7 linked regions of the Homo sapiens genome follow. The protein of the gene in region 1 purifies or fractionates together with the protein of each later gene. This does not show direct contact. Each region holds a gene or a part of one and is shown in the gene's direction. Other genes may lie near its edges.

The links.
Region 2: the proteins of PRKAR2A (region 1) and LRPPRC fractionate together in Homo sapiens (co-fractionation; one large-scale study listed by BioGRID). This does not show direct contact.
Region 3: the proteins of PRKAR2A (region 1) and ARFGEF1 fractionate together in Homo sapiens (co-fractionation; one large-scale study listed by BioGRID). This does not show direct contact.
Region 4: the proteins of PRKAR2A (region 1) and METTL6 purify together in Homo sapiens (pull-down; one large-scale study listed by IntAct). This does not show direct contact.
Region 5: the proteins of PRKAR2A (region 1) and POC5 purify together in Homo sapiens (co-immunoprecipitation; one large-scale study listed by IntAct). This does not show direct contact.
Region 6: the proteins of PRKAR2A (region 1) and PLCH1 fractionate together in Homo sapiens (co-fractionation; one large-scale study listed by BioGRID). This does not show direct contact.
Region 7: the proteins of PRKAR2A (region 1) and GNS fractionate together in Homo sapiens (co-fractionation; one large-scale study listed by BioGRID). This does not show direct contact.

The regions. Positions count from the first base shown.
Region 1 is NC_000003.12:48,767,674-48,772,070, reverse strand, and holds part of PRKAR2A (cAMP-dependent protein kinase type II-alpha regulatory subunit), read left to right. Parts: intron 1-4,397. UniProt on the Homo sapiens protein: Regulatory subunit of the cAMP-dependent protein kinases involved in cAMP signaling in cells. Type II regulatory chains mediate membrane association by binding to anchoring proteins, including the MAP2 kinase.
Region 2 is NC_000002.12:43,975,408-43,979,576, reverse strand, and holds part of LRPPRC (leucine-rich PPR motif-containing protein, mitochondrial precursor), read left to right. Parts: intron 1-2,300; coding exon 2,301-2,422; intron 2,423-2,524; coding exon 2,525-2,583; intron 2,584-3,347; coding exon 3,348-3,434; intron 3,435-4,169. UniProt on the Homo sapiens protein: May play a role in RNA metabolism in both nuclei and mitochondria. In the nucleus binds to HNRPA1-associated poly(A) mRNAs and is part of nmRNP complexes at late stages of mRNA maturation which are possibly associated with nuclear mRNA export.
Region 3 is NC_000008.11:67,224,632-67,229,028, reverse strand, and holds part of ARFGEF1 (brefeldin A-inhibited guanine nucleotide-exchange protein 1), read left to right. Parts: intron 1-764; coding exon 765-805; intron 806-896; coding exon 897-1,066; intron 1,067-1,430; coding exon 1,431-1,582; intron 1,583-1,719; coding exon 1,720-1,892; intron 1,893-2,845; coding exon 2,846-3,006; intron 3,007-3,995; coding exon 3,996-4,126; exon of another isoform or gene 4,127-4,340; intron 4,341-4,397. UniProt on the Homo sapiens protein: Promotes guanine-nucleotide exchange on ARF1 and ARF3. Promotes the activation of ARF1/ARF3 through replacement of GDP with GTP. Involved in vesicular trafficking.
Region 4 is NC_000003.12:15,413,496-15,417,892, reverse strand, and holds part of METTL6 (tRNA N(3)-cytidine methyltransferase METTL6), read left to right. Parts: intron 1-1,950; coding exon 1,951-2,121; intron 2,122-2,235; coding exon of another isoform or gene 2,236-2,259; exon of another isoform or gene 2,260-2,274; intron 2,275-2,309; coding exon of another isoform or gene 2,310-2,395; intron 2,396-2,978; coding exon of another isoform or gene 2,979-3,084; exon of another isoform or gene 3,085-3,730; coding exon 3,731-3,872; exon of another isoform or gene 3,873-3,947; coding exon of another isoform or gene 3,948-4,086; exon of another isoform or gene 4,087-4,222; intron 4,223-4,397. UniProt on the Homo sapiens protein: S-adenosyl-L-methionine-dependent methyltransferase that mediates N(3)-methylcytidine modification of residue 32 of the tRNA anticodon loop of tRNA(Ser), including tRNA(Ser)(UGA) and tRNA(Ser)(GCU).
Region 5 is NC_000005.10:75,673,061-75,676,864, reverse strand, and holds the end of POC5 (centrosomal protein POC5), read left to right. Parts: intron 1-2,286; coding exon 2,287-2,430; 3' UTR 2,431-2,741; downstream 2,742-3,804. UniProt on the Homo sapiens protein: Essential for the assembly of the distal half of centrioles, required for centriole elongation. Acts as a negative regulator of centriole elongation.
Region 6 is NC_000003.12:155,738,057-155,742,453, reverse strand, and holds part of PLCH1 (1-phosphatidylinositol 4,5-bisphosphate phosphodiesterase eta-1), read left to right. Parts: intron 1-4,397. UniProt on the Homo sapiens protein: The production of the second messenger molecules diacylglycerol (DAG) and inositol 1,4,5-trisphosphate (IP3) is mediated by calcium-activated phosphatidylinositol-specific phospholipase C enzymes.
Region 7 is NC_000012.12:64,734,856-64,739,252, reverse strand, and holds part of GNS (N-acetylglucosamine-6-sulfatase precursor), read left to right. Parts: intron 1-2,145; coding exon 2,146-2,249; intron 2,250-4,397. UniProt on the Homo sapiens protein: Hydrolyzes 6-sulfate groups in N-acetyl-d-glucosaminide units of heparin sulfate and keratan sulfate.

The DNA.
Region 1 (4,397 bases):
GCTTGAGGAAAGACATGACAGTGAGTTCCCAGGTTCCCATATATCCCAGATGGGGTGCTGGAAAGCCTGAAATCCAGATCTTCTAACAGGTATATTCAACAAAAGCAAAACTCCATCTCAAAAACAAAACAAAACAAAAGAACGAACAGCTAAACAGAAAATCAGCTAGTGTCAGCTAGGATATAGAAGAACTTAACACCATTAATTAACAAAAGCTATCTGAAATTTATAGAACACTGCACACAGCAACAACAGAATGAACATTTTTTTCAAGCCCATGGAACATTCACCCAAATAGGCCATATCCTGGAATATAAAATAAAACTTAAAAAATGTAAAAGATTTGAAATCAGGCCAACCACAGTGGCTCAAGCCTGTTATCCCAGCACTTTGGGAGGTTGAGGTGGGAGGATTGAGTCCAGGAATTTGAGACCTACCTGGGCAGCATAGTGAGACCACATCTCTATTTAAAATTTTAAGAAATAATGAAAATTTAAAGAAAAAATGAAATCAGAATGTGTTCTCTAACTACAATTGAAAGAAAGAAACTAAAAATCAATAACAGATCTCCAGACACTTAGAAATTAAATAACATTGTTTTTGGTGTGAGCAGGGGCTAACTGCAGCCTTGACCTCCTGAGCTCAAGCAATCCTCCCACCTCAGCCTCCCAAGTAGCTGGGACTACAGGTGTGCACCACCACACCTGTCTTTTTGTTGTTGTTGTTGTTGAGACAGAGTCTCACTATGTTGCTCAGGCTGGTCTTGAACTTCTGGGCTCAAGCAGTCCTCCTGCCTTGGCCTCCCAAAGTGCTGGAATTACAGGCATGAGCCACTGTGCCCAGCCAAATAACACATTCTTTCTTTTTTTTCTTTTTTGAGATGATCTTGGCTCACTGCAACCTCTGCCTCCTGGGTTCAAGCGATTCTCCTACCTCGGCCTCCTGAGTAGCTGGGATTACAGACGTGTGCACATGTGCCACCACGCCCAGCCAATTTTTGTATTTTTAGTAGAAATGGAGTTTCACCATGTTGGCCAGGCTGGTCTCGAACTCCTGACCTCAGGTGATCTGCCCACCTCGGCCTCCCAAAGTGCTGGGATTACAGGCAAGAGCCACCGCACCCGGCCAAATAACCCATTCTTGGATAATCTCTAAGACCAAGTCTCAATGAAAATTGAAAACTGTATATTGAGCTGTAAAACCACCTGCTTTGTGGCTGGGGTATGAGGATTAAATACATGGGCATAAGAGAAGTGACTCCCTTAGTGCCTGGTACAAGGTGGGTGTTCACAGAATGATGGCACAAGCTCCCCATGGCCATGGTGCTACTCACCACCCTTCTTTTCCTGAGACTTCCTTTCCTAAGACTCCTATTCTTTCTATTTCCTTGCCTTTGGCAGTCATTTCCTCTTCTCCTTGCTTTCTTAGGTCAGTGACCTATCAAGATATCCTTTTGGCCTCTACTTTTCTCCTGTTAATTGACTTGCTTTGCAAGCCCAGACTCTTCCAAAGCTTCAATACCACCTCTAGGAAAGTAACTCACAGAAGGTCCTCTCCAGCCTGACTTCTTCTTTGGCCTTGGAAATGCCTTCTGAGGTTGAAGTAGGGAGGATCTGGTGTCGTCACTGAGTTTTTCAAGTTGGATCCTACATTCCTGCTTTTATAATGGGCAGCTGCCATCACGGCCCCTATACGTAGTCTCTTTTGCTTTCTCTTGCTTTATTGAAAGTCAATAGAAGGTTTCCTGGGAAATTCCTGCAGTCACAGGAGAGAGTAGCACTCCTTTTCTCTTTTGAACTTCAGGGGTGTTTGCTTGCCTCTGACCACTTGCTGCCTGTGGGAATTTCCTCTTCACTGCTCGATTGGATGCTCATCAAAGGCTATGTTGATGTCTGGTGCTTTTTTTATATTCTCCACAGCCATGGGAACTGGCCTTGCACCACATGAAAAGAGAGTTTTGGGAAGTGTTAAAGCATGCGTAAAAAGGGGTAGAACCAGCTGGGTGTGGTGACTCATGATGTAATCCCAGTACTTTGGGAGGCCACGGTGGGCAAATCACATGAGCCTAGGAATTCAAGACCAGCATGGGCAACGTGGTGAAACCCTGTCTCTATGAAAAATAAGAAATTAGCTGATGTGGCGGCACATGCCTGTAGTCCCAGCTACTTGGGACGCTGAGTTGGGAGGATCACCTGGGCCTAAGAGGTCAAGGCTGCAGTGAGCTGTGATCATGCCACTACACTCCAGCCTGCTGAGTGACAGAGTGAGACTCTGTCTCAAAAAAAAAAAGTCGCTTGCCGGGCGTAGTGGCTCGTGCCTGTAATCCCAGCACTTCGGAGGCCAAGGTGGGCAGATCACCTGAGGTCAGGAGTTGGAGACCAGCCTGACAAACATGGAGAAACCCTGTCTCTACTAAAAAATACAAAATTAGCTGGGCATGGTGGCGCATGCCTATAATCCTAGCTACTCTGGAAGCCAAGGCAGGAGAATCACTTGAACCTGGGAGACGGAGGTTGCGGTGAGGCAAGATTGCGCCATTGCACTCCAACCTGGTCAACAAGAACGAAACTCCATCTCAAAAAAAAAAAAAGTCGCTGTAAGAGATATTTGTTGTGGTCGGGCACAGTGGCTCACGCCTGTAATACCAGCACTTTGGGAGGCCAAGGCGGGCGGATCATGAGGTCAGGAGATTGAGACCATCCTGGCTAACACGGTGAAACCCCGTCTCTACTAAAAATACAAAAAATTAGCCGGGCGCGGTGGCAGGCGCCTGTAGCCCCAGCTACTCAGGAGGCTGAAGCAGGAGAATGGCGTGAACCAGGGAGGCGGAGCTTGCAGTGAGCCGAGATTGTGCCACTGCACTCCAGCCTGGGTGGCAGAGCGAGACTCTGTCTCAAAAAAGAAAAAAAAAAAGAAAGATATTTGTTGTTTTCTCTTTAGTTAGAAATCTGTTGTTGTTGTTGTTGTTTTTGAGATGGACTCTTGCTCTGTCATCCAGGCTGGAGTCCAGTGGCATTATCTCGGCTCACTGCAACCTCCGCCTCCAGGATTCAAGCAATTCTCCTGCCTCAGCCTCCTGCATAGCTGGGATTATAGGCATGTGCCAACAGTACTGGCTAATTTTTTATATTTTTGGTAGAGATGGGAATTCACCATGTTGGCTAGGCTGGTTTCGAACTCCTGACCTCAAGTGATCCACCCACCTCAGCCTCCCAAAGTGCTGGGATTACAGGCGTGAGCCATGCGCCCAGCCGAAATATTGTTTGCTATTGCAATTGTACTAATCTTTGTTACACTGTAGGTGGATTTGTAAAATATTGGGAGTTAACTTTGCTGCCCTCTGTGTATTTTTTAATATTTATTTATTTATTTATTTTGAGACGGAGTCTCTGTTGCCCAGGCTGGAGTATAGTGGTGTGATCTCGGCTCACTGCATCCTCTGCCTCCAGGGTTCAAGTAATTCTCATGCCTCAGCCTCCCAAGTAGCTGGGACTATAGGTGTACACCACCATGCCCAGCTAATTTTTGTATTTGTAGTAGACACGAGATTTCACCATGTTGGCCAGGCTGGTCTCGAACTCCTGACCTCAAGTGATCCACCCACTTTGGCCTCCCAAAATGCTGGGATTATAGGTGTGAGCCACTGTGCCAGGCCTTTTATTTTATCTATCTATGTATCTATGTATGTGTGTGTGTGTGTCTGTCTGTCTGTCTCTCTGTCTGTCTATATCTATCTATCTATCTATCTATCTATCTATCTATCTATCTATCTATCTTTTGAGACGGTCTCACTCTGTTGGCCAGGCTGGAGTGCAGTGGTGCTCTCACACCTCACTGCAACTTCGCCTCCCAGGGCTCAAGCAATCCTCCCACCTCTGCCTCCCCAGTAACTGGGACCACAAGTGCACGCCACCACGCCTGGCTAATTTTTGTATTTTTTGTACAGATGGGTTTCGCCATGTTGCCCAGGCTGTTCTCAAACTTCTGGGCTCAAACAATCCACCCACCTCCCCACCTCAGCCTCCCAAAGTGCTGGGAATACAGTCGTGAGCCACTGTTCCCAGCCTGTATGGGTTTTTTTTAAATAAATAAATAAAATATTGGGGTTTTCTGTTTTTGTGGGGTTTTTTTGTTTGTTTTTTTTTTTGAGATGGAGTCTCGCTCTGTCTCCCAGGCTAGAGTGCAGTGGTGTGATCTTGGCTCACTGCAACCTCCACCTCCCAGGTTCAAGCGATTCTCCTGTCTCAGCCTCCCTAGTAGCTGGGACTGCAGGCGCGTGCCGCCATGCCCAGCTAATTTTTTGTATTTTTAGTAGAGACGGGGTTTCATTGTGTTAGCCAGGATGGTCTCGATCTCCTGACCTTGTGATCCACCCGCCTCAGCCTCCCAAAGTGCTG
Region 2 (4,169 bases), on another chromosome or scaffold:
TGTCTGTCAAAGTTATAAATGCACATACCATTTGACCGAGCAGTTCCATTTGTTCGAATTTAGGTACAGATATACTCACATATGCAAAAGGATATTCTTCATTGTAGCTTGTTTGTAATAGTAAGAAATTGGAACCAATTCAAATATTCTTCTCTAGGGGATTAGGTAAATAAATTATGGAGTACCCGTAAAATAGATTACTGTGTAACTGTTTTAAGAAATGAAGAAGCTCTTTATATGCCAATGGGGGTGTTCTCCAGAGTATAAATAAAAATTAAGGTGTAGACCAGTATGTATAGAATGATACCATTTTGAAGAAAAGTGTTTTTACACGTGCATGTGTATACAATATTAAAATATTTCTAGAAGGATGATGAACACTGGATACAGGTTTTACTTGACCTTTTTATACCTTTTCAGTTTTATGTCATGTAACATAGTACGTATTCAAAAAATAATTTGAAAAAAGATGGTTTAATACAATTTAATGTTCATTCCTGATTTAAAAAAATCTTAAAGTATAGAAAGATGCTTCTTTAATGTGTTAAAAATCTAAAACCGACAACAATCATGTATAATGCAATGAAATAAGATGTGAAACAATACAAGAAGTTATTATTTTTAGATGATGTGATTGTTTAATCTGCAAAATCCCAGAAAATCAGCTCACAGTAATTAGCTGGACTCACTAAATGTTTAAGAATCCATACCTCTTCTAGTTATAAAAGAAAATAGAGAAAAGAATCCAAGAAAGTATAGCTACAGATAAATAAAATATTTAGGACTATCCTTCAAAAAGTGAGTAGGACCTATGTGAAAAAAACTACAGGATAAAGACAGATTCTTCCTTCACAGTTTTGAATACATCTAGAATACATTTTGATAAGTTGATTTTTTTTTAAGTTAAAAACTATATAGATAAATGTTGACTTTCAGAATGGAAAAGGATTTTATAAGTATAAAAGGAGCAGAAAAGTAAAGCTAAAATATTGAATCTCTAAAAATTAGAAATTTCTGTATGTCAGTAAGTCATTGAACTGGGAGAAATATATGCAGAAAAGGTTACATTCTAAAATAGAAAAAAGCATTACACAGCAGTAATAACATTAATTCCTCCATATAAAGATTAACAATGTGTTATTATATTAACATTCTTTACAGATAGGTCTCTCCTGTATAAGTGTCTGCTTTATAAGGATGGAATCCATGGCTTCTTTATTTTCCTGTTTGACAGTAGCATGATGCTTTGTGTATAATGGCATTTGATACATACTTGTTGAATTAATATTGCCAGAAACCTTGTAGTTTGCCAGTTTGACTCTTGTTTACAGATTTATAAAGATACAAGAGATCTTTTAGCTTAAGTAACTTGTCCAAAATTACAGAATGAGCTGTTGACAGATCTGAGCTATCTGTAAGATGGGGCTGATAATAGTGTCTCAAAGTTGTTGTGAAGTTTGAGTGAGCCACTATATGTGGAACACTTAGCATAGTGCCTGAAACATAGTATGAAAGAAACATATCTGTTAAGATAAAAATGTGTATTAATTTAATGGAACAGCTCTCTGCTGCCTAAAATCACATACTCTCACCCCCAGATACTAACCATAGGCCTGTATGGTCACAGGCAGTTGAATAAAGATGTGAAATTTAATGCATGAAAATGTAGTGAGACATGTTACCACAAAATTGATATAAAGACCATGATGTCATGACTCAGTAGAGTAAGGCTGTGTGGTAACCTTATTTGATGTGGCCCTAAACAGTAGGGATACAAAGAAAACAAAGGTCATTAGAATACAGATAATTAACAAGAGCATACCATAGATCATGTTCATCAGCTGAAAATGGAATGCATCCTTAAAATGAAGGCTTTGAGTGACAGAATTGCCAGCACAGTCCTACTGTGTGAAAGAACTGAAGTTACAATCCATTCTTCACAGTGTGTCTGTAATGTGAGGACTGCTTTATATAGAAAAATCTTACAGTCACTTTTAAATATAGGGATATTGTCAGCGTTTTCTAACAGGAAGATAATTTTGTGCTTCATAAGTAAGAGGCCTTTTAATATCCGAATAGGCAGTTACTTGTAACTATACAGTAACTCAGTAATTACTGTCTTACATGCTTAGCTTGCTCTGTGTGACAGAGTATCTGTGTAGATAGGTCTGAGCGCCAAGATGGATGGGTGAAATGCTAAAGTGATAGTTTTACTCTTTTTGTTTGTTAAATTTAGGTCCACTTTAAAGCATAGGATTTTCAATGCTTTTCTAAAAATTCATTTTAAATTTCATTTGTAGGTGCTGTGTATGATGTGAGTCACTATAATGCTTTACTTAAAGTCTATCTTCAAAATGAATATAAATTCTCACCAACTGATTTCCTGGCAAAAATGGAGGAAGCAAACATTCAACCAAATCGAGTAAGTAGTTGCTATTGTGAATATATTTTCACATCCACCATTTTTTTTCTTTACTCAGAAAAAAAAGTATATTTAAAATTAACTGGCCCATTTCATTGACAGGTGACATACCAGAGATTGATTGCTTCTTATTGTAATGTAGGAGATATTGAAGGTGCCAGGTATGGATCTGTATGAACATGTTTAAGCGAACAAATTTGTACATTTTGTAAATCTAATGTCTGTTCACTCTTTGTTTTAAAGCTTCTTCCTAATGGAGGAAATTGTTTCAGAACTGTTTTAATCTAGAAAATCTGGTAATCTGACTTACATAAAATATAAAATTATCGTGTAAGAGAGAAAAGATAAGTAAAAGTTGCTATTTTAATTAAAAATTTGATTTACTGGAGAGAGGTATAAAGTTGTTGAGCTATAAAGCTGACTTTGCTTTTTTTTTTTTTTTTTTAAATATTTCCTAAGGGAAATGTTCTTAACCATTTAAGCTGTATTCATTTATAAAACTGGAAGTAGTGTAGAAAATCAGTTGCACCATTTCTCTGCTTATGTAAAATTTATTACTACTTATGAATGGAAGGTTTGGAAAATAAGGGATAAATTGGAATACATAATTTCATTTTTATCTAAAAGAATCTTATGAAACTATGCTTTTAAAAGGGTAATTAGTAGTGTAAGACAAATCAGATAATCAGATTTTTAAAAATCTAGTATTTGTATCGATAGTACTTCAAGACTGTTGATACATTAGAGAGTGGGGTTTTGTGGGAAGGGGATCAAAGGGATTAGTTCTTTCTTTGTGGTTTCTAAAACAAATGTATATTACTATTATATTTTAAAAACAAAAGTAACTCAAGGCCTAATTCTGTACATGTTGTAAAGAGTGTTCTTATAAATACTTTCAATGAGTATCTTCGTTTTTCCTTTGCAGCAAGATTCTTGGATTTATGAAAACTAAGGATCTCCCAGTTACAGAGGCAGTATTCAGTGCCCTTGTGACAGGGCATGCCAGAGCTGGGTAATGTTCAACCTAAGGTTTTGGTTCTTAAGTGATAGATGGCTGAGATGCTAAAGTGGTCATTTTACTCCTTTTTTGTTTGTTAAGTGGGGTTTAAATTAGAGAAAATTATTGTAGACAGTTCTTAAAATACATTTGTCTATCCCTTCAAAAAAAAATCTGTAGTATATGAGGTAGAGCATACTAATATTTTTATAATGAGCTTTTACATTTGTTCCACAAATCTTTCTTTTATTTGAATTTTTAGAAATTGGGCTTGAAGCCGGGCGTGGTGGCTCATGCCTGTAATCCCAGCACTTTGGGAGGCTGAGGTGGGCAGATCACCTGAGGTCAGGAGTTCAAGACCAGCTTGGCCAACATGGTGAAACCCGGTCTCTACAAAAATATAAAAATTTAGCCGGGCATGATGGCAGGTGCCTGTAATCCCAGCTACTTGGGAGTCTGAGGCAGGAGCGTTGCTTGAACCCGGGAGGCAGAGGTTGCAGTGAGCCGAGATTACACCATTGCACTCCAGCCTGGGAGACAGAGCAAGACTCCATCTCAAAAAAAAAAAAGAAAAAAGAAACTGGGCTTGATCTGATCTGAAGTAACTGCTCTGGAAAATATTTTTATTTTTGAAGAGTAATTTACTAAATGTTATTCTTACCTCGAAAGTTAAGTCTGAGTCATAACCTACATAATATTAAGAGGGTATGTTATTTAATGTCTATGTAATTATTATTATTTTTTAATGGG
Region 3 (4,397 bases), on another chromosome or scaffold:
AGTTTTCCTTTTTATCATGCAAATCCTATTTTGTGCATTCTAAGTTGAGGAATGTCATCCTTCTTGAAAGTGACGTCAAACTCTTGGTTGCAAACCCAGAATATGGGTTAAAATGCAGACTTTAAAAAAGGAGGACTAATGTGTTTATGCTGAAATTTTTTATGAAACTTTGAAACAAAAAAAGAGCTCAGCAAAGAAGAATGGGCAAAGCTGGGCAGTGTTAGCTTAACTCCAAACATTTGAATGCCCTAAGGAAAGTGGTTTGGCCAATTCTTGGGTAAACTGAGACTATTTGCAAGGTTATATTAAGTCACTTTTAGTGTAAATGAACTTTCTAATCAAATATACTTTACTGGTAAAAATACGTCAAATTTTTCATTTTAAGAACTTGCTTAATGCTAGACAATAATCAGGAAAGAATCTGTAGTGTGCCAATTATTAGTTTTACAAATTAATATTTTTCTTATTCTTAGAATCTCATATCTATCCGGGGTTTGTAAATCTGATAAAATTACAGCAGTATATACTTACCCTAATAATAATATTGAATGTAAACTGGTTCACATGGAGTAGAGGTGGAGGGGAGGGAGAAACATCCAGACTACACTTGTTACTAAACTAAATGATGAAAAATACTCATTTGAATACCCAATTTTTTGTTCCCTTAAAACATAAAAATAGCTAGTACCCCATGCCACATACTTTTCAATTGGAATAAGAACAGTAACTTATAAATTTTTTAAATTGTGTTTTATTTTCCCTAGAATATTCACAGGATCTACAAGGCTAGATGGAAATGCCATTGGTAAGTATGGGCATTTATTCTACTTCGGAACTGGCTTGGGGCTAAAATAACTTTAATGTTGAGCTAAAAAAAAAATGTATTTATATTACAGTGGATTTTGTCCGTTGGCTCTGTGCTGTGTCTATGGATGAATTACTTTCCACGACACACCCAAGAATGTTTAGTCTACAAAAAATAGTAGAAATATCATATTACAACATGGGAAGAATAAGATTACAGTGGTCTCGAATTTGGGAAGTTATTGGAGATCATTTTAATAAGGTATTTGAATAACTATGGTGTTTGTTTACATTTGTAGTATATTTTTTGTTTAGAATGTCCTTGTAATCAAATTGAGCCTTTTTCCCTTCCAAGCAATTATTTATTACTTTTTAATATTAAATTAGAAAACCCTGTGAATGGTGTTTTTCTTTTTAGAAATGATTGCTCTGGGCTTTAAGAATTTGATTTAAAATATCTGTTTTTCTTGTTGAGAAATAGTTTTAGCATACTTAATGCCTTTATGGAAAATCTTAGGATTTACCTATCTATGCTATTCTATACTTTTTCTAAAACAAAAAATAAAGAATTGTAGATTTTTACTGCTGATATTAATTAGCATCGTTTATTTCTGTCGCCATTACAGGTTGGGTGTAATCCTAATGAAGATGTAGCTATTTTTGCAGTAGACTCCTTGAGGCAGTTGTCAATGAAGTTCTTAGAGAAAGGGGAGCTTGCTAACTTCAGATTCCAGAAGGATTTCTTAAGACCTTTTGAACATATAATGAAACGGAACAGGTACTATATTTGTTGAATTGCTTAATAGAAGGAAAATCTTGTTGTTTTCCACAGCAGGGAGAAAAACAGAAGAAAGGGGGAAAAACTGATGAGTTTTATCGGTTTGCATATCCAAGCAATTATATTAATATTTTTAGGTCTCCAACAATTCGAGATATGGTTGTACGGTGTATAGCACAGATGGTTAATTCTCAAGCTGCTAACATTCGATCTGGATGGAAGAACATTTTCTCTGTATTTCATCTAGCTGCATCTGATCAAGATGAAAGCATAGTGGAACTTGCATTCCAAACAACCGGGCACATTGTCAGTGAGTATTCTCTTAGCTGTGTTCAAGTAAAAGGAAAAAAAAAAAGCAACCTTAACGTGTTCAGAAGATGATTCAAGTAACAATAAGATTATGGCCTTTAAGTTTACCAAGCTTTGTCTACAGAACCAGAGTAAATAAAAACAATTAAATTACTATTATAGTTAACATTTATTGAGTATTTACCATATGGCAAATACTGTGTGCACTTTTCACGTAATTTCTTTAATCTTCACAGTTAAACATTATTGTCCATCCCTTTTTTCAAAATAGATTAGGAAACTCAGCCCCAGAAAGGTTAAGCAGTCTATGTAAGGTCACAGAACTAGTGATGGAGATGGTCTTGAGACCCATGGAGTATTAAAGCAAAGCCTTTATTTTTGACCAGTAAGTACATTGCACAGCCTTCTTCAAGGAGGAGTCCCCTTAAGTTCAAGGGGGACTGACTGAAATACTAAGATTATAAGTTAAGCCTATATGGAAGATGACAATGATGACCATCAACATCAAGAATCATGGCATCATCATAGCTATCATTTATTGCGTGCTTGCTTAAGTATTACACTAAGCACTTCACTTATATTATTTTACGTAGTGCTTACAGCTATCTGTGTATATTATTATTATTTCCATTTTATATCAAGAAACCGAGATACAGAGAGGTTAAGTAATTTTGTATATTCATTCAACCAAAGTTGAATCAGTACCTACCGTGTACCAGTCACTGTATTAGGTGCTATGTTTATAATGTAAACAAAACAGACAAGTTTTACTATTCTCACCACTCAGGGCAGTCAGTTAAGTGGTAAAGATAGTCTTGAACTTCGTATCTGTTGGATGTCAGAACCTGTAACAACCTTTAAGAGGAAGTGCATTACATCTAGATGTTGGTGTATTTTTGGTACAGCTAAGAATAATTGAAAAATTATAGTAATATATATTTTTCTCTATTTTAGCCCTTGTATTTGAAAAACACTTTCCAGCGACCATTGATTCTTTCCAGGATGCAGTGAAGTGTTTGTCTGAATTTGCGTGCAATGCAGCTTTCCCAGACACAAGTATGGAAGCAATTCGACTTATTCGCCATTGTGCAAAATATGTGTCTGATAGACCTCAGGTATAGCGTCATTTAGTAAACAAAATTTTGCAGAGTATTCTTTCCAATTTGAAATCTTAAGTTTGTTTGGGAATTGAGGGTATATGAAGCATTTATTTTTCAGTAATTTGAAAAATAATCTGAGCAGCCTGATTCCAAGTTAGGATGGTTAGTGATTATAACTAACCATTATTGAAAGTGTCAGGTATTTTTCTGAGTGTTTTTCATTAACTTGTATTAACTTGTTTAATCTTCTAATGGCTTTATGGGGTAGATAGTGTTATAGCCCCATACAGACAAAGAAACTGAGGCACAGAGAAATTTTAAAATGTGCCCATAGTTTCAGGGCTAGTAAAGTAGAACTAGGGTTTGAGCCCCAGCCTGTGTTTCTAACCATTCCCTACAGTGCATCTTGTCTGTCTGTGCTGTGTAATACTGAAGCTGACTGACTATGGATGAGAATAGGCTTAAGCTCTAAAGTAAAAGGTTGAATTGAAAATCTAGCTGCCATATTTAACTTGTATATTTGAATCTATCTTTGTAACTGTCATAAGAGAAAGTGATGTATCGTAGATTTGGTAATAAGATTTTATTCCGTACTACCATGGACCGATCAGGTGCTTGGTACTTTTTAGATACGTCAACTCATTTCACCTTCATACTTCACCAGTGTGGTTAATGTGGCTGTCTGGTATCATAACCATTTAAGTGATAAAAATGGAAACCTGAATTAACCTGGCTAATAATGCAGAAAGCTGGTGACAGTTGAAAGTGAAGCTAACTTTTGGATTCTAGTCCAGAGCTCTTTATAGGCAGTTATGTTTTGCCTATTTCAGTGGCACATATACTAAAATTGTAGGCAGTTATAGTGTCCATTTTTTATAAATTATTTTTTATTAAATTGCTCACTGGTTATTTGTGAAGCATTTAAATTATTTTTTGAGAAGTTAGTATACTGAATGTATGGGTGTTATGTTTTGCCTTTAATAACCCTACCTTTTTTCTTGAAGGCTTTCAAGGAATACACAAGCGATGATATGAACGTAGCACCTGAAGACAGGGTGTGGGTGAGAGGATGGTTCCCAATTCTCTTTGAGTTATCCTGTATCATCAATAGATGCAAATTAGATGTAAGAACCAGGTAACAATCTATATTTGTAATTAAAATTTTGGATTTATTTTGACTTTAATCAAATTAACTCTTCTTTATAAACACAATCTCACAGTTAAAGACCATAAAATCAAGTGTTTTGTCAAATATATTAATTATTAGGTATATTTTAAAATATGTTAATATGATTTAAAAATATTAACTAGAGCAAAATAAAAATGGAAATACTACATTATTTTTAAAATATTTGATTATAGCCTCCATTTGATTTTAGCTTCTAAGTTAATTTAATCCTTTAAAC
Region 4 (4,397 bases), about 33 Mb from region 1:
TGGAGATTCGATGGTGGGGTGTGGGAGAGGGGGTCGTTCTCTAATGTTCTGCTTCTCCAAATTTGAACTGGTACCGTGGGCCTGTGTCTCAAGGGTAGTCATTTGTCTCAAGGGTAGCCAGTTCTTCTAAACACAGTAAATTGAATGAGAAATTTTTTCCTCACTCATAATTGTCATCTTTATTATCTACCTTTTTGTCTAATTGTCACCTTTGTCTATCTTTTATCATATAATATACAAAATTCCTGTTTATATATACAGTATATACAGGTCTGTTTTGGGACTCTGTTTTGTCTCAGTGATACATTTGTCTCCATTCTCAAACCATGTTGTTTTATTACTACGTTTTGTAATATATTTTGATATCCAGTAGTGTATCTTCTCCTTTATTATTCTTCATTCTATTTTATTTATTTATTTATTTATTTATTTATTTATTTTTGAGACAGAGTCTCTATCATGCAGGCTGGCGTGCAGTGGCATGATCTCGGCTCACTACAACCTCCGCCTCCCAGGTTCAAGCGATTCTTCTGCCTCAGTCTTCCCAGTAACTGGGACTACAGGTGCGGGTCACCACGCCCAGCTAATTTTTGTATTTTTAGTAGAGATGGGGTTTCACCATATTGGCCAGGCTGGTCTCAAACTCCTGACCTCATGATCCACCTGCCTTGGCCTCCCAAAGTGCTGGGATTACAGGCGTGAGCCACCGCACCTGGCCTATTTTTTTAAAGATGAGATCTTGCTCTGTTTTCCAGGCTAGCTTGCAGTGGCATGGATCATAGCTCACTGCAGCTTTGAACTCAAGCGATCCTTTCACTTCAGTCTCCCAGGTTGCTGGGATTACAGGCATGAGCCACCATACCTACCTCATTGTTCATCATTTTAAAAATTGACTTGGCTATTCTTAAAGATTTTTACTTTATGATGAATTAGATTCACCCTGTCTAGTTTCTAGAAATCTGTTGGGAATCAGTTTAGATTGCATTGGATTTACAAATGGAATTATGAATAGAATTGACATCTTTTTAATTTTGCATTTAATTTTCCCATCCAGTAACTTTGTATATCTATTTATTCAGGTCCTCATTTACATGAAATAGAAGTTTAATGTTTTTCTTCATAATACTCCTATACATGTGTTGAAGCCTACCAACCAAAATGTACCAGGAACACATTTGTAGTCAAAAAAAGGTTAAGTTTATTTAGCTTGCTGCATAAAGAGAAAATATACCCCAGAAGAACTGCGGGAGCATCTCATCAAGGGGAATTAGAAGGGCTTCTCATAGGGTTTAGGCTTTAAGCAGATGATTCAAAGGAGGATTAAGGAAGCCAGAGGCCAGCAGGACATAGTGGCTCATGCCTGTAATCCCAGCACTTTGGAAGGCTGAAGTGGGAGGATCACTTGAGGCCAGGAGTTCAAGACTAGCCTGTACAACATAGCAAGATCCCATCTTTACAAAAATAAAAATAAAAATTTAGCCAGATGCAGTGGTGCACACCTGTAGTTCCAGCTACTTAGGAGGCTGAAGTGGGAGGATAACTTGGGCTCAGGAGGTGAAGGCTGCAGTGAACCATGATCATGCCACTGCACTCTAGCCCAGCAGACAGAGTGAGACCCTGTCTCTTTAAAAAACAAAAAGAAGCAGAGGCCAGTTTTGGATCATCATCCCTCTGGAAATAATATGCTTCTAAAATGCTCAGTTTTGAGTACGTGATACTCTTATTGTCTCCTCAGTTAAAAATGATTTATTAAAATGAAGTCTTGCTCCTGTAGCAGTAGTGAATATTACATGCTTTATAGTGAGTGATTTATTAATCAGTTTTATCTGGTAACAGTGATAATTTCTATGTATACAAGTGGAAATTGGATCGCCTTTTGATGTTGTATTTTTCTATATGTATCAGCCTAGTGGTTGCATTAAAATTCATTTGTATTTCTTCCCCCTGTAGCAAAATCCTTTATATGATACAGAAAGATGCAAGGTATTCCAGTGTGATCTGACTAAAGATGATCTTCTGGATCATGTACCGCCAGAGTCTGTGGATGTTGTTATGTTGATATTTGTGCTGTCAGCTGTTCATCCTGATAAGATGCACCTTGTCTTACAAAACATTTACAAGGTTAGTGATTTGGGGCCTGCACTTGAGGGTTGGACAGTCTGGATTCTTTTACTTACCTTCCCTCATGAGGCTCATGTACTGTCTAGATTCACATAGTCTCTCCATTCTCACTAGGTAGGCTGTGTAGTGAGTGTATAGAAAGGGGTCCTCTGGCATAAAACATCCACCCTAAATTCTGATTTGTGCAGTGCCATGGCTGCTCTTCAGAGCTTCGCCAGCCCTGGGACAAGGATGATTTTGCAGTTACCTGGGATCCATGGAGTCCTGCTATAAGGTGAGAGGAGTTATGGTTTAGTGGTCAAGAGTACACAGTTTGGCCAGGTGTGGTGTTTCATGCCTGTAATCCCAACACTTTGGGATGCCAAGGCAGGTGAATCACTTGAGGTCAGGAGTTTGAAACCAGCCTGGCCAACATAGCAAGACCTTGTCTAAAAAAAGCTAATGTATGATCATTGGCAGATCACTTAACCCTGTTGAGTATTGGTTTCCGTGTCTCATGTGAGAATAATAATCACATTCCTTTGTCCCACAGTTGGGTGAAGATACAATGAGAAAATGTATGGTTAAGCAGTCAAATGCTAGGCATGTATCAGTCATTAGCACCGTGATTGAGCTATACATTGTGGCACAATGAAATGAGAGCTGAGGCTCAGAATGAGGAAAACCAACCTGAATCAGTAAAGAGCCAAAACGACATTCTGGTTTTTTGTTTGTTTGTTTGTTTGTTTTTTTAAGAGACAGTTGAATACAGTTTGAGTACTAGGAGATGGTGAATAAAATGTTGCAAGAAAGTGCTTCAATGAGGATAACACTTTCATTTATTGTCTCTAACACTTATTTATTTATTTTTGAGACAGGGTCTTGCTGTGTCACTCAGGCTGGAGTGCAGTGGCATGGACGTGGCTCACTGCAGCCTCAACTTCCTGGGCTCAAGCAGTTCTCCCACCTCAGCCTCTGAAGTAGTTGGGACTACAGGACGCACTACCAGATCCAGCTAATTTTTAATTTTTGTGTAGAGATGGGGTCTCACTATATTGCCCAGGTTGGTCTCTAACATTTTAATCCTGTGACACTGGACATTCCAGGGTGCTCTTGGAGGTACTCAAGAATTGTCTTCAGGGACGAGCGAGGTGGCTCACGCCTGTAATCCCAACTTTGGGAGACTGAGGTGGGCAAATTACTTGAGGTCAGGAGTTCGAGACTAGCCTGGCCAACATGGTGAAACCTCATCTCTACTAAAATACAAAAATTAGCCGGGCATGGTGGCGGGCACCTATAATCCCAGCTACTCGGGAGGCTGAGACACGAGAATCACTTGAACGTGGGAGACGGAGGTTGCAGTGAGCTGAGATTATGCCACTGCACTCCAGCCTGGGCGACAGAGCAAGACTCCATCTCAAAAAAAAAAAAAAAAGAAGTGTCTTAGTGTTATGGAGCCCTGCCTGGTCTTACTATCTTTTTAAGTAGTAGGCCATTTTGGTTCCGTATTATGGGCATTTCAGTCTGTCCCCTTAGTAACTATCACAAATTTATTTTAAGTCCTAACTTAATCAGGTTTTATTTTGACAGGGTTCTCCAAAGTCATGTTCAGCCTGCTTTTGTTTCATAGGTATTAAAACCAGGCAAAAGTGTCTTGTTTCGTGACTACGGACTGTATGATCATGCCATGCTTAGGTTTAAAGCCAGCAGCAAACTTGGAGAAAACTTTTATGTTAGACAAGATGGGACCAGATCATATTTTTTTACTGATGGTAAGATGAATGGAATCCAGTCTTTAAATGTTTTATTCTTTGTTTCTGTTTATTTGATTGCATTATCACTGCAAGGCTGCTTGGAGAAGGCTTGCGACATGTGCACGAGACCCTGAAACAAGCCCTCTACTGCACAATATTTACCCAGCACCTGGAAGGCACAGACCTGGCCCCTGCCCTTGAAGAGCTCACAAGCCTTCTCTGGTGTCAGTGACTCCCCTAATGAGCTTGGGTTAATGGACAGCCTCTGACATGCCATGTGGATTCCCTACTAGGAATTGTGCTGGAATAAGAGGGAGGGCAAGTCAGAAACTTCTTGTCCAGTTAAAAATAAAGCAAATTTGACAGTATAATGCCTTGAGATTACTTTCCCATGGCACAAAGTCAGGAAACCTTTTTCTGTAGAATTGATTGGATCTGTTTTGGGGTTTGGTTTTTTTGTTGTTTTTGAGACAGAGTCTAATTCTGTCACCCAGGCTGGAGTGCAGTGGTGTGATCTTGGCTCACTGCAGCCTCCACCTTCCA
Region 5 (3,804 bases), on another chromosome or scaffold:
TTTATTTATTTATTTATTTTTTATTTATTTTTTTTTTTGAGACAGAGTTTCTCTCTTGTCTCCCAGGCTAGATAGAGTGCAATGGCGCAATGTTGGCGCACTGCAATCTCCGCCCCCTGGGTTCAAACAATTCTCCTGCCTCAGCCTCCCGAGTAGCTGGGATTACAGGCACCCGCCACCACCCCCAGCTGATTTCAGGGACTGATTTTAAAAGAGAATGCCCTCTATAAATTCTCAGCATCGGACAACGTTCCTGTGTACTTTCTAAGTATTAGCAAAAAAAAAGTATATGGAATGATTTTAAATCCTTTTTTCCCGAGTACTAGCTGGGCACTAGATGATTAAATGAAGACAAGCTGGATTGATTTGAACTGAACTTCAGGTGAAGTGGGACCTTAGCGAGGTGGAAGGCTGGAGATAGAAGCACCAAGTCCAGATAGAGACATGGAGATGACAGAGGATTTATTTTAGAATTATCTTAGGTTTCATGTTTCATAAGTTGGACAGACTCTGAAAGTTCGTAGAAGACTTTTCTATATATTTTTGAATATGGAAGACAAGTTATCAAAAATGAGAAGAAATAAACCCACTTCTGTTTTTTCAGATGTAGAAAATGTATAGAGATGGTGAGAGACTGTCCATTTGTGAGGTAAAGAAGGTGTAAAGAGAGCACATGTGTGTTTATTTTTTATTAGACAAGCTTTTGTTTTGTAGTAATGATGGGAATTCATATTTTACAGAAGAAAAATCAAAGTACTAAACATTTAGAACCCTTGTTTCTGATACTTATCTCCCATGCTGCCCTCCCTTTATTCAGTATGTGCATTTCTTACCCACTAACTGTGTATGAACCAGATAGCCATCAGCTGCCTGGATTATGTGACAGACACAGTGGCAGTCATTTGTACTGTATTTCTTTTCACCCTGGGAATCAAGATCTAAATCTACCAGAAATAGTTATTACTAAAAAACCAAGGATGCGATTTGTGACACTGTAGCCTCATCTGCTGGGTAACTGCATGCTTCTAGGGCCACTTCATTCTCTGTCATATTTTGTGTATCATAATTTCAGTGGCTACTTTATTTCTACAGTTCCTCTTGCCCATCCTCCTCAAGGAGAAAGCCTTTTTGGCAGGCTCAGGTTAGTGGCTGGCAACTAATTAGGTGACTGGCAACTAAAATTTCTTATCTGTTGCAAGAGTATCTCCTATTTATAATGGTTATCCAGTTGTTTATGTACAAATAAACGTTTTTATAAGATACTTTAAGAAAAGAAGTTATTTTTCTTTAAAAAGGAGTTCTGTTCTTTTTAAAATGGAATCTGACAGGATCTTTTGTTTTTAAGAAGTTTCATTCTTTTTTTAAGCAAAAACTACAGCTTGGAGTTTTTTAAATACATAGTGAATGTTTTGACCAAATACATGTAATTTTACTTAAACTATTTTAACAATGACTTTTCTAAGTGGAAGACCCTAATAGAAATTGACATGTCCTAGTCAGTGATATGGACTGAGAACTTGATAACAAATCCCACTGCTGGCTACTAAGAAGCTTTATCGGGTTTAATAGGGAAAAGCCTTGTACTGATACATATTGTTCATGTTTACATGTAAATGTGTACTTGTATACATAGTGTGTACTTACATGCATTACATGCATATTATGTGTGTCAAGTAAGTCACGTGTGTCCTGACTTTAATGACTCAGTGCTCATGTCTGAGGTGTTCCTTTGAGCTCTGAGGTGATGTGCATAAAAGTTTTAGTCTGCTCCCAGGTGAACCAGGTTAAATATGAGGGCTCTGGTTTAAAGCAAGGACCAGACTGCATCCTGAGGGCTTCCGTGTGCCCCTGGGATTGTGAGATAATCACATCCACATACTAACAGTCAAGTAGAGAGAAGGAAGTTGGATGGAATGAGGGGAGGACTCAGGGCTGACCCCTCTTCCAGACACCACAGAGTTTCTCTCTGTATACAAAGCCTCTGTACACATTACAAGATTCCACTTGGCCCTGTTGGAGGAATGGCTGCCGTGGCTTTCTTAATGAGCCTTGTGGATATAGCTCTGATATTACACTGTGGGTGTTGAACATGTCAGTCAGACTGGGTAGGGGTTCCTTACAGACAAAGGCCTCATCTAATTAACAGCTGCTTCACTCCACTCATTGCTTCTTTCTACTGGATCTTAACAAATGTTTATTGGGTTAAATTATAGATGATAGATGATGAAATGATACATAGTATACATAATCTTGGGATATTATTAAAGCAGAATTTTGTCTTTTCAGCAAACCATTCCTCAAGCAACTGCAGCAAAATATCCCCGGACCATTCATCCTGAAAGTAGTACCTCAGCTTCCAGATCACTTGGAACCAGATCAGCTCACACCCAGTCTCTCACAAGTGTTCATTCCATAAAAGTGGTTGACTAAAGTGAATATGTCCATAGTGGGGTCTTTTAATCCCTCTGGTCTTACCAAGGGTTAGAAGTCTTTTGGTTTTAACTTTTCCATATTGTTAGAACATCATGGAGACATCATGTTCATCTGTTCAAAATTACAAGAGGCTTTTTCAAGCTCTACCATGCTTTGTAACTATATGTAGAAATTATTTTAATGTTATTTTTTATTTAAGCAATTAAGTAAAACTTTTTTAAATTAAAAAAGAAACTGGACTTTATTTCTTTAATATGTTTAGCCTGTTGCTGATTACAGCATCAAAATATATAAATTTATTTTCACTATTTATAAAACACTAAATCATTTCCAATATTACACAGCTGTAATTCACTCAAAGTGTTGAGAGGGAACCTTACTAAAAACAAAGTATTAGAACTAGTGGAAACTAGGATATTTTTATTTTTAATTTAAAAAAGACCAAGTGTAATAATGATTTTTTTTTTTTTTTTTTTTGAGACAGAGTCTCGCTCTGTCACCCAGGTTGGAATGCAATGGTGTGACCTCGGCTCACTGCCTCCTCCTCCCATGTTCAAGCAATTCTCCTGCCCCAGCCTCCCGAGTATCTGGGATTACAAGTGCCAGCCACCATGCCCGGCTAATTTTTGTATCTTTTTTTAGTAGAGACAAGGTTTCATCATGTTGGCCAGGCTGGTCCCGAATTCCTGACCTCAAGTGATCCGCCCGCCTGAGCCTCCCAAAGTGCTGGGATTACAGGCATGAGCCACCACGCGCGGCCCCGTTTTTTGTGGCTTTAACATGTTAGTCTTCATTTTTCCAGGACTCTAACAACAGTTGAAAATAGACGGAAACGGCAACACCTATGAATCATTTTTTAATGCCAAAAGGGAAAACATTTGTAATACTAGCACTAGAGTTACAGAAGTATCAGAAATTTCCTGTTAGAATGAGCCTGTTTCTGGTGTTCTTTCTCGCCTTATTATTTGAAACTCTGCAGCACTGAACCTACCTTGTTCTCCCCGAACATCTAAACACTGTTCTGTGGTGGCGTAGCCCTGAGCAACTCAGCAAACCTAGGCCTGGGCAGAAATTTTTCAATGGCTGGCCAATACAAAGAAACCATCTGGGCAGAACTGATTTAGGTGAACAAGACTTGGCTTCTAATGGTTTCATTGCTGACTGATTGTGTGGGCCAGACAATTAAATGAATCTCTGGATCCTCATCTGTGAAATAAGAATAAAATCTACCTACTATTTCACAGTACTTATACATAAAAATGAACAGGTTCTAAAGAGTTTGTCCAGGACCTCAATTTCCATCTCTTTTAACAGAGTGGATGGAGTTAATCATCTGAAGCCTCTTCTAATTTGAATATAAGTTCTCTGCAC
Region 6 (4,397 bases), about 110 Mb from region 1:
CGAGGATTTATAGTGGCACCAGATTTGCAATAAAATCTGTTTAAAGTTATTGCTTCCGTTTGATATATTTTCCCACATCATCAACTTCAATTAAATTTATTTTAAAAATCAGTCTTTCAGATATAGGGCTAGTATTATAAACATAGAATATGATAAAAGTGCTCCTTGTTAGGGTGCCATAATGTAAAATACTGTGAAAATTCTTAACGAAATGTTTTTTACTTAATTTATTCACTTAGTCAACAAATGTTTATTGAGAACGTATTATATATAAGGCAAGATGAATAAATCCAGATTTCTGTTCTGAATGAACTAAGAGCTGTGAGTCCTGAAATAATTCTAATACCACTTCAGACGTTCAGAGTGAAGATACTACCTTTGGTACTCTTAAGGAGAACGATTGATTTGGTGCTAATCACTCAGACTTGCAGATTCAGAAACAAATGCTGAAACTGAGTAATTTAGATAAGGCTGTACATCTAGGATAGGAAGCATTATGTGCACCTATTTGCTTACATTTTTGAAGTACAAACTCTACTCTAAAACTTGTAGTCTTGGCAAGTGCAGCACAGAGTTTAGAAGAAACAGAAACCTTGTAATTCTCAGGTTTCTTAGATGAAGATAAGGTGAGTGATTCAGTAATCCTTTGTTCTGGCTCTGTGTTTCATGACATAATGAACCTTCTGCAGCTTCCTTCTAAGAATGTTGGTCTGCATGCCTGAAGGATCATAACTATTTTTTCCCTGAACAAAAAAAAAAAAAAAAAAAAGAGGATATAAAATTATGATAAAAGGATAAAAGGAATACAATAGAGTATTTAAACATTTAACTTTTGAGATGGAATAATTTCTAGACATTTTTAGTGAATTTAAACTCTTGAAATCCATTACAGCCATGACAAAATCCTGGCATAATGTTGACCAGGGTTGACAAACATCTCCTCTTGTCATTCCTAGGACATAGACGGTTAGGGAAACTCTCATCTTTCCTTCACCACCTCATGAGTCTAAAAACAATGATAAACCCAGGGAAGCTTGCTGAAGAGCATCCTCCATTTGGTTATTGCTCTTTGTCTAGGAAAATCAGACTCAGCTGTGAATTGTGGACCAAGTGGTGCAGAACTCATTACTTTGAACAATGCCTCCTCGGCCTGGGAAGCATGTTCTCTCTTCTCACTAGCAGGGGCTTATTCCAGGCTGGCTTTGGTCACAAGGAAAATCATTTAGACACAGTTCAGTGGACACTCACTCACATCTCTTTGACACCCGTGACCATTTTTGTTTAAGGAGAAATCCAGTACTGCTGTGGTAGGGTGTGCCAAATTAGAAGTGCATTTTAAGAAGCCTGTGAAGAAGTTTACACAGCTTTATTTTATTATCATCAAGATCTCTGTCTTCTGTGCTTCGTAGTGGAAGAGGGCAGGATAGATGCAGAAGGGACAACCAAGATAACGTGGATAGCTAAGTTTAAAATGTTCTTACCAGCTATGTATTTTGGTGGCACTAACCTAAGTGCCTATGCCTTATTATAGTCATTAAATTACAGAGCAGAAAAAGATAAATCTACCATATGTATCGTATAAATCTGGAAGCCAGGGCCCAAAGTTGCTAAATGATTTTCTTAAAAGTCACACAGCTAATAAATGGCAGAATGGGGATGACAACGCAGAGTTACTGATTTCTAATGATCTTGTTGTTTTCAGGAAATCTAGGGAGGGCAGACAGATATTGAATCCTTGCTTTATTTTTTAAATACGATTTTTAATTTTAGACATGAGGTCTCACTATGTTGCTCAGGGTAGTTTTGAACTCCTGGGCTCAAGTGATCCTCCCTCCTCGGCCTCTCAAGGTGCTGGGATTACAGTTATGAACCACTGCTCCTGGCCTCGAATCCTTGCCCTAGATTTGCTATTTCCAACTATATGAAACTGCTATAGTTGTAAATATAAGGTGGTCAAACATCAGCAATGTCATATGATTTAACCTAATATTGTTGGGTAGAATTAACAGTGGTTACCTTCTTCTTCTTCTTTTTTTTTTTTTTTTTTGAGACAGAGTCTCTCTCTATCACCCAGGCTAGAGTGCAGTAGATCTTGGCTCACTGCAACCTCTACCTCCTGGGTTCAAGTGATTCTCCTGCCTCAGCCTCCTGAGTAACTGGGATTACAGGCGCCCGCCATCATGCCCGGCTAATTTTTGTATTTTTAGTAGAGATGGGGTTTTGCCATGTTGGCCAGACTGGTCTCGAACTCCTGACCTCAGATGATCCGCCTGCCTTGGCCTCCCAAAGTGCTGGGATTACAGGCCTGAGTCATCGCACCTAGCCAACAGTGGTTACCTTCTGACAATATCTTTTTATAAGCATGTGTGTATCATGAGAACACATATGGTACACACGCTATGTCTAAGTACAAAAAAGCTGTTTTTCATTTGGTATCTATTTTGGTCTGAGGAATTTTGGCATGATTGGGATTTACCATAAGGGGGGATAGTTTTTCTGGTTATTTATTGTTCTGTAAATATTTTAAAGGATTCTGGAAGAAAAGGAGGAAGTGAACATTAATGTATTCCTAACGTGATGGCACTTATTTTATGTCTTTTTATAATACACAATAATCAAGAGAGGCAGGAATTCTTATCCTATGTTACTGATGAGGTTCAGAGAGGTTAGTTTCTTGCCTAAGATGTAACATGGGACAGACGAACGTGGAACAGACTTGGAATTTGAACCCACGTCTGTCTGCCTCCATGTTCTGTTACATCCTATTACTACTCAGGAATGCAGTGGTAATAGGCGGGAAATTTGTGACAAACGCTGGGTTACTTTTATTTTCAAATTCACCATTTATGCAAAGTATAGACAGGTAGAGAGTTTCTGATAAGCTGTCTGGAGAGTAAAGAAACTGCATTCCCTACATGGAGTTTAGGAGGTTGTAAATTCAGGTCTGGTTCCAGAAAACATTCACGACTTTGTTTATAAACGATGTGGGCTATGTTTTTGGAAGTGGTGTTTAGGTTATGTGCTGTAGAGATTTTTCCACATCGACTTGCTCACTTACCACTTCTGGATTGTTGCCATCTTGTGGTGGGTCTAAGAGGATTCCTCATGATTTTAATGTGTGCTTTCTGACATCCTAAGATTTAGATGTTGGTTTTATCTAAATGTTGCCCGATTATTTTTCTTGAGGTAGTATTGATAGATTTACTGCTAGAATGGACCGGGTAGTGTTTTGCAATGTTTTTCAAACTGGAGATGAGAATTGCCTTGGACAGTTGCTGAAAATGTCTTAAGTTATTCCAGAAGCTGGAGTTTTGGTGCTCCTAAAACTGCTGTGGTACTGGGAAGTTGCAACTGGCTTGTACTGAGCTGGTTTTAGATTTGCAGTATTTTTGAGCTGGTTTCAGCATAAAGAAACTGGGCTCAGGAATGTCATCGTTCACACAGCCAATTGGTGGCTGAGTTGCGATGGATACCTAAGACACCTAAGTCTAGCATGCTTTTATTTTTGTATATTTTTTTGAGACAGGGTCTCCCTCTGTCACTGGCACGATCTTGGTTCACTGCAGCCTCCACCTCCAGGGCTCAAGAGGTCCTTGCCCCTCAGCCTCCTGAGTAGCTGGGACTACGGGCGTGTGCCACCATGTTATGCTATTTTTTTTTTTTTTTGGAGGTGGAGTCTCGCTCTGTTGTCCAGGCTGGAGTGCAGTGGGGGGATCTCGGCTCACTGCAACCTCCGCCTCCCGGTTTCAAGCGATTCTCCTGCCTCAACCTCCCTAGTAGCTGGCATTATAGGCACCCGCCAGCACGCCCAACTAATTTTTTTTTTGTATTTTTAGTAGAGACAGGGTTTCACCGTGTTAGCCAGGCTGGTCTTGATCTCCTGACCTCGTGACCCGCCTGCCTCGGCCTCCCGCAGTGCTGGAATTACAGGCGTGAGCCACTGCGCCCCGCCCCGCTAATTTTTAAAAGAAATTTTGTAGAGACAGGGTCTCACTATATTTCCAGGCTGGTCTCGAACTCCTGTGCTCAAGCAATCCTCCGACCTCTACCTCCCAAAGTGTTGAGATTACAGGCACGAGCCACTACTCCCGGCAGTCCAGCATTCTTAATAGCGCACCACACCTTAAAAAGCACACCCTTCTTCTGGGTCTTCTTTCTTCCCTAGTACCTGACTCCAGGCTAGAAGAAAATGCTAAGGGTTTCAAAAAAAGTGGGTGCTGGACTCTGTCTTGGAATTCAGCCTCTGCCTCAGACACCACACAGGTCCCTGGAGGGCTCTCTGGGTTTTGCTCTTTAGTTGTTTTCTGTAGCTTATTCTCCAAGCAGCCTCTTCTCTCTGTGGCTGGTTCTTTTGCACTGAGCAAGAGACTTACAAACTTGTCTAGCCTTACCCGGTC
Region 7 (4,397 bases), on another chromosome or scaffold:
CAGGACCCCTCCAGTTGGAGCACCACATCATACCCACGTGGAGAAACCAGGTTTCATTATTTGCTGTTTCACATGCAAGATGACATGGTGTTCTAGGAGTGGGAGCAGAGCATGAGCTTGATGGGTTGGAGGCAGGCCGTATGGAAGGCATTTGAGATAGGAAGACCAAAAGGAGGTTGTCTTGGGAAAACTTTCTTGCCATTCATGGAATTTGTTTTTTGGGTGTTTTTGTTTTTTTCAAAAGCTGCAGGATGAGTCAGCTCTGTGTCCTTGACTTTCATGCTTTCTGCTTGGACCTTCTGTTGTTAAAAGCAAATGTTTTCTTCTTTCCACATATATAAATGTCCACTTGAATGGGATTCACTTGAGACTTGCTTGCATAGGAGGAGATCGCTTAGGCATTTAATGCATTATTGTGATTTTTTTGGGGGGCTGGTGGGGGGACAGAATCTCGCTCTGTCACCCAGGCTGGAGTACAGTAGCGTGATCTCGGCTCACAGCAATCTCTGCCTCCCAGATTCAAGCAATTCTCCTGCCTCAACCTCTCGAGTAGCTGGGACTACAGGCACACGCCACCACGCCTGGCCAATTTTTGTATTTTTAGTAGAGATGGGTTTTTGCCATGTTGGCCAGACTGGTCTTGAACTCCTGACCTCAGGTAATCTGCCTACCTCAGCCTCCCTAAGTGCTAGGAGTACAGACGTGAGCCACACGCCTGGCCTGTGAATATTTTTAAACACTCAAAGTAGAGAATAGTAAAATAACCTCCATTATCCAGCTTAGATTTTCAGCTGCATGAGGCCAGTCTTTTGAATTCTTCCTACTCTCCCTGTGTTTTTCTTTTGTTACTAGAAGGTTTTGAAGCAACTCCCATACACATGACTCCAGGATTCAACACCGGATTATGCATCTGACTCTGGTTATTATGTATCAAGATGCAGACCACCAGCCTCAGTGGCTCACACCTATAATCCCAGCACTTTGGGAGGCCAAGGCAGGTGGATCACCTGAGGCCAGGAGTTCCAGATCAGCCTGGCCAACATGGCATAACTCTTTCTCTACTAAAAATACAAAAATTAGCCAGGTGTGGTGGCACATGCCTGTAGTCTCAGCTACTCGGGAGGCTGAGGCAGGAGAATCTCTTGAACCCAGGAGGCAGAGGTTGCAGTAAGCCAAGATCGTGCCACTGCACTCCAGTGTGGGTGACAGAGCGAGACTCCATCTCAAAAAAAAAAAAAAAGATGCAGGCAAAGTCCACATACTACCTTTAGTTCTTGTATCTCCTAACTCTGTCATTTGCCACGAATTTACAGGGAGAAGTGGGTCTTTGTCCATCAGAATGTCTCACATTTTGAATTTGGCTAACTGCTGTCTTATAGTGCCTTAACTTGTTCATCTCTAGTTAGCATTTCCTATAGATTGGTAGTTAGATTAGGGACTTGATAGAAGTTTGCATTTTCAGGTGACAGTGCATCCTCACCTGCTGCTGTGTACTTCCTGTTGCATCATGTCATGAGGCCCGTGGCATCTGGCTGCACTGTTTTTGGAGTGCTGGTGTTGATTGATGAGTCAGGTGGTTTCAGCCTTAGCTCTTCCTATGAGCTTTTCTGTTGTTCCATTGATGATTGCTGCCTAAATTCATTATTCCCTCAGAAACTGCAAAATATTGATTTTGTAATCCTGTCCTTTCTTTTGTATTTATTAGCTGAAATTCCTCAGAGAAGAACTTCCCCTTATCAGTTATTTGGTTATTTTGAGATGCAGTTTATTCAGGAAACACAGGATAGGTGTTTTTGTTCATTTGACAGTTTTTGGAGTAAACTTCATTCAGTTGTGATGAGGCTGAGTAGCATGCATAATTTTTTATGTATTTGTGTTTCAATACTTTCCTGTCATTATTTTTGCTTATTTTGTTCTATCATAAGCCAGGGAGTCCCTTCTAGTCATTTGTTTAGAGAAGATGAATTTGTTGTTTTCCTGCCTTGTAGTAACAAGAGACCCAGGCAAATTTCAGCTTTCTATTAAAACACCAGAATCAGTAGAACAAAGTTGTTTTAGTTTTGGCTGTGGATTAAATGAGTGAAACATAACATGAGCAAGGCTCCTGTCTTGGCTCCATCTTTACATTGTGTGTTTTGTTTTCAGGACAGTTTTCCTTGCCAATAGACAAGAGACAGCTGTATGAGTTTGATATCAAAGTTCCACTGTTGGTTCGAGGACCTGGGATCAAACCAAATCAGACAAGCAAGGTAGGTGCCTGACAAGCTGGTGCTGTGGACAGGTAGGCACTTGCCTGAGAAAATAAGGTGTTTCCTCCTGAGATAAGATTGGTTAGGTTCCTCTTCCCACTAGGGCTGAGCAGCAGAAGAGTTTTTAAGTGGAAACAATGATTGCTTTTTTTTTTCCTTAACTTCCCACTGCTCTCTGTATCTGTATTTTCACCCCACATATACATGTCTCATTAGAATGCATAGCTTTTCTTTGTCTTTTGAGACTAGATCTTTACTTTGTTCTGGAGCAGTGACTCTCAACAGAGGATGTGCATCAAAATTGCCCTCCGAAACTGAAGAAGAAAAATGGTACGTGCTTGGGCAATATCCAGAAAGAGTATGATTGACTCACTTGGTCTGGAATAGGGACCCAACATCTGCCTTTTTTCCTTTTGAAGTTTGCAGGTGATTCTGAGAGGCAGCCTGGTTTGGGGCCCACTGCCTTGTAGAGCAGAGCCCCTCAGGCTTTTCTGTGTGTGAATCCCCTGGGATCTGGTTAAAATGCAGATTCTGCTTCTCCATTTCTGATCAGCTCCCGGGTGATGTCTGCTGCTGGCCTGACCTTGCTTTGAGTATAAGGCTATCAAAAACATGTCTTCTAGGAATTAGTCTTTCCCTGTGCTGGGCTCTTCCTTATGAATGCTTTGTTGCTTTCCTGGTTCTCTCTCCTAGAACTGCCATAATATGCCACATTGTTCTGTTGTCTTTCCCATTTGGTTTCAGTGTCTTTTTCTAAACGTGGTACCTAATGCTGAGGCACTTTGTTCCTAGCAGTCATGAGGACCTTCATCCAAAATACTGTCCTCCAACACTCAGGAGAAAAGAATTGACAGCCTCCACCAGCTATGTCTTCTCTCCTTCCTGATATCACAATTTCAGTTTCAGTCCCAGTTCTGTGAGACCAAGGAAGATGAACAAATACACACTTTAAGCTAAAATTGCAAAGTGGGTTTTTAAATGGGCCAGACTTTCTGGGTATATTGGGTACTTTAGTTTAATTTTGGAGCTTGATGTTTACTTGTTTAAATGTCTATTTTTCACTTATTTCCTTTTAAAACACTCTTGATGGAATTCTGTTAAAATTCTCTTGGAAGGGTAAAATGGCCTTCATAATTACGTTTTGTGTTTTTCTCTGAAGACCCACATTCCTAAAGCTAGTCACTTTTCCCTACAAATTTCAGTGCCTTCTAAACAGGCTTCCTCTTTCAAAGGAGATAAGCAAGTTTAGAAGACCATTAAATCTTAAAAGTGTTTTCTTGAGGTTGGTGTTTGGAACTGATTGAGGAGACCATGTCAGCAGCCATGTTCTGTTTTTAGGAGCAGGGCTACCTCAGCCCACATGGGAAGGAGGCTGAATGAGATCATAGTGAAATGTGTCAGCCAGCTGCCTGTGGAAAAAACTGTTCCTTTTTTTCTTTAAGTTAACATTGCCATCTAAATGTTAAAAATCAGAAACTTCACCTTCTCTAAGCAATCTAAATGAAGTCTGGTTCCTGAGAAGCCATTTCAATAATATAGCTAACATTTATTGAGTGTTTAGTATGGGACAGGTGCTATTCTAAGTTTATTACCTGATTTAACTCATTCAATCCTCACAGTTGATGAGATAGAGGTACTGTTATCCCTATTTTGCAGATGAGGAAAACTGAAGCAGAGAAGTTGTTTGCTGAAGATCACGTAGCCAAAAAGTAGCAGAGCCCTGCATTTGAACTGGGGCAGTCTGGCTCCAAAGTCTGTATACTTAACCATTACATTATAGTTCAGTCAACAAGTATTTATTATCTTCCTTGCCAGCACGGTACACCAAGGAGCCTTGCATACGGCAAGGAGCAATCAAACAAGATGAGTTTTGTTTTGTTTTTTCATTTTTTTTGAGATGGAGTCTTGCTCTGTCACCCAGGCTGGAGTGCAGTGGTGCGATCTCAGCTCACTGCAAGCTCCGCCTCCTGGGTTCACGCTATTGTCCTGCCCAGCCTCCCTAGTAGCTAGGACTATAGGTACCTGCCACCATGCCCAGCTAATTTTTTGTTTTTGTTTTTGTTTTAGTAGAGATGGGGTTTCACCGTGTTAGCCAGGATGGTCTAGATCTCCTGACCTCATGATCTGCCTGCCTCGGCCTCCCAAAGT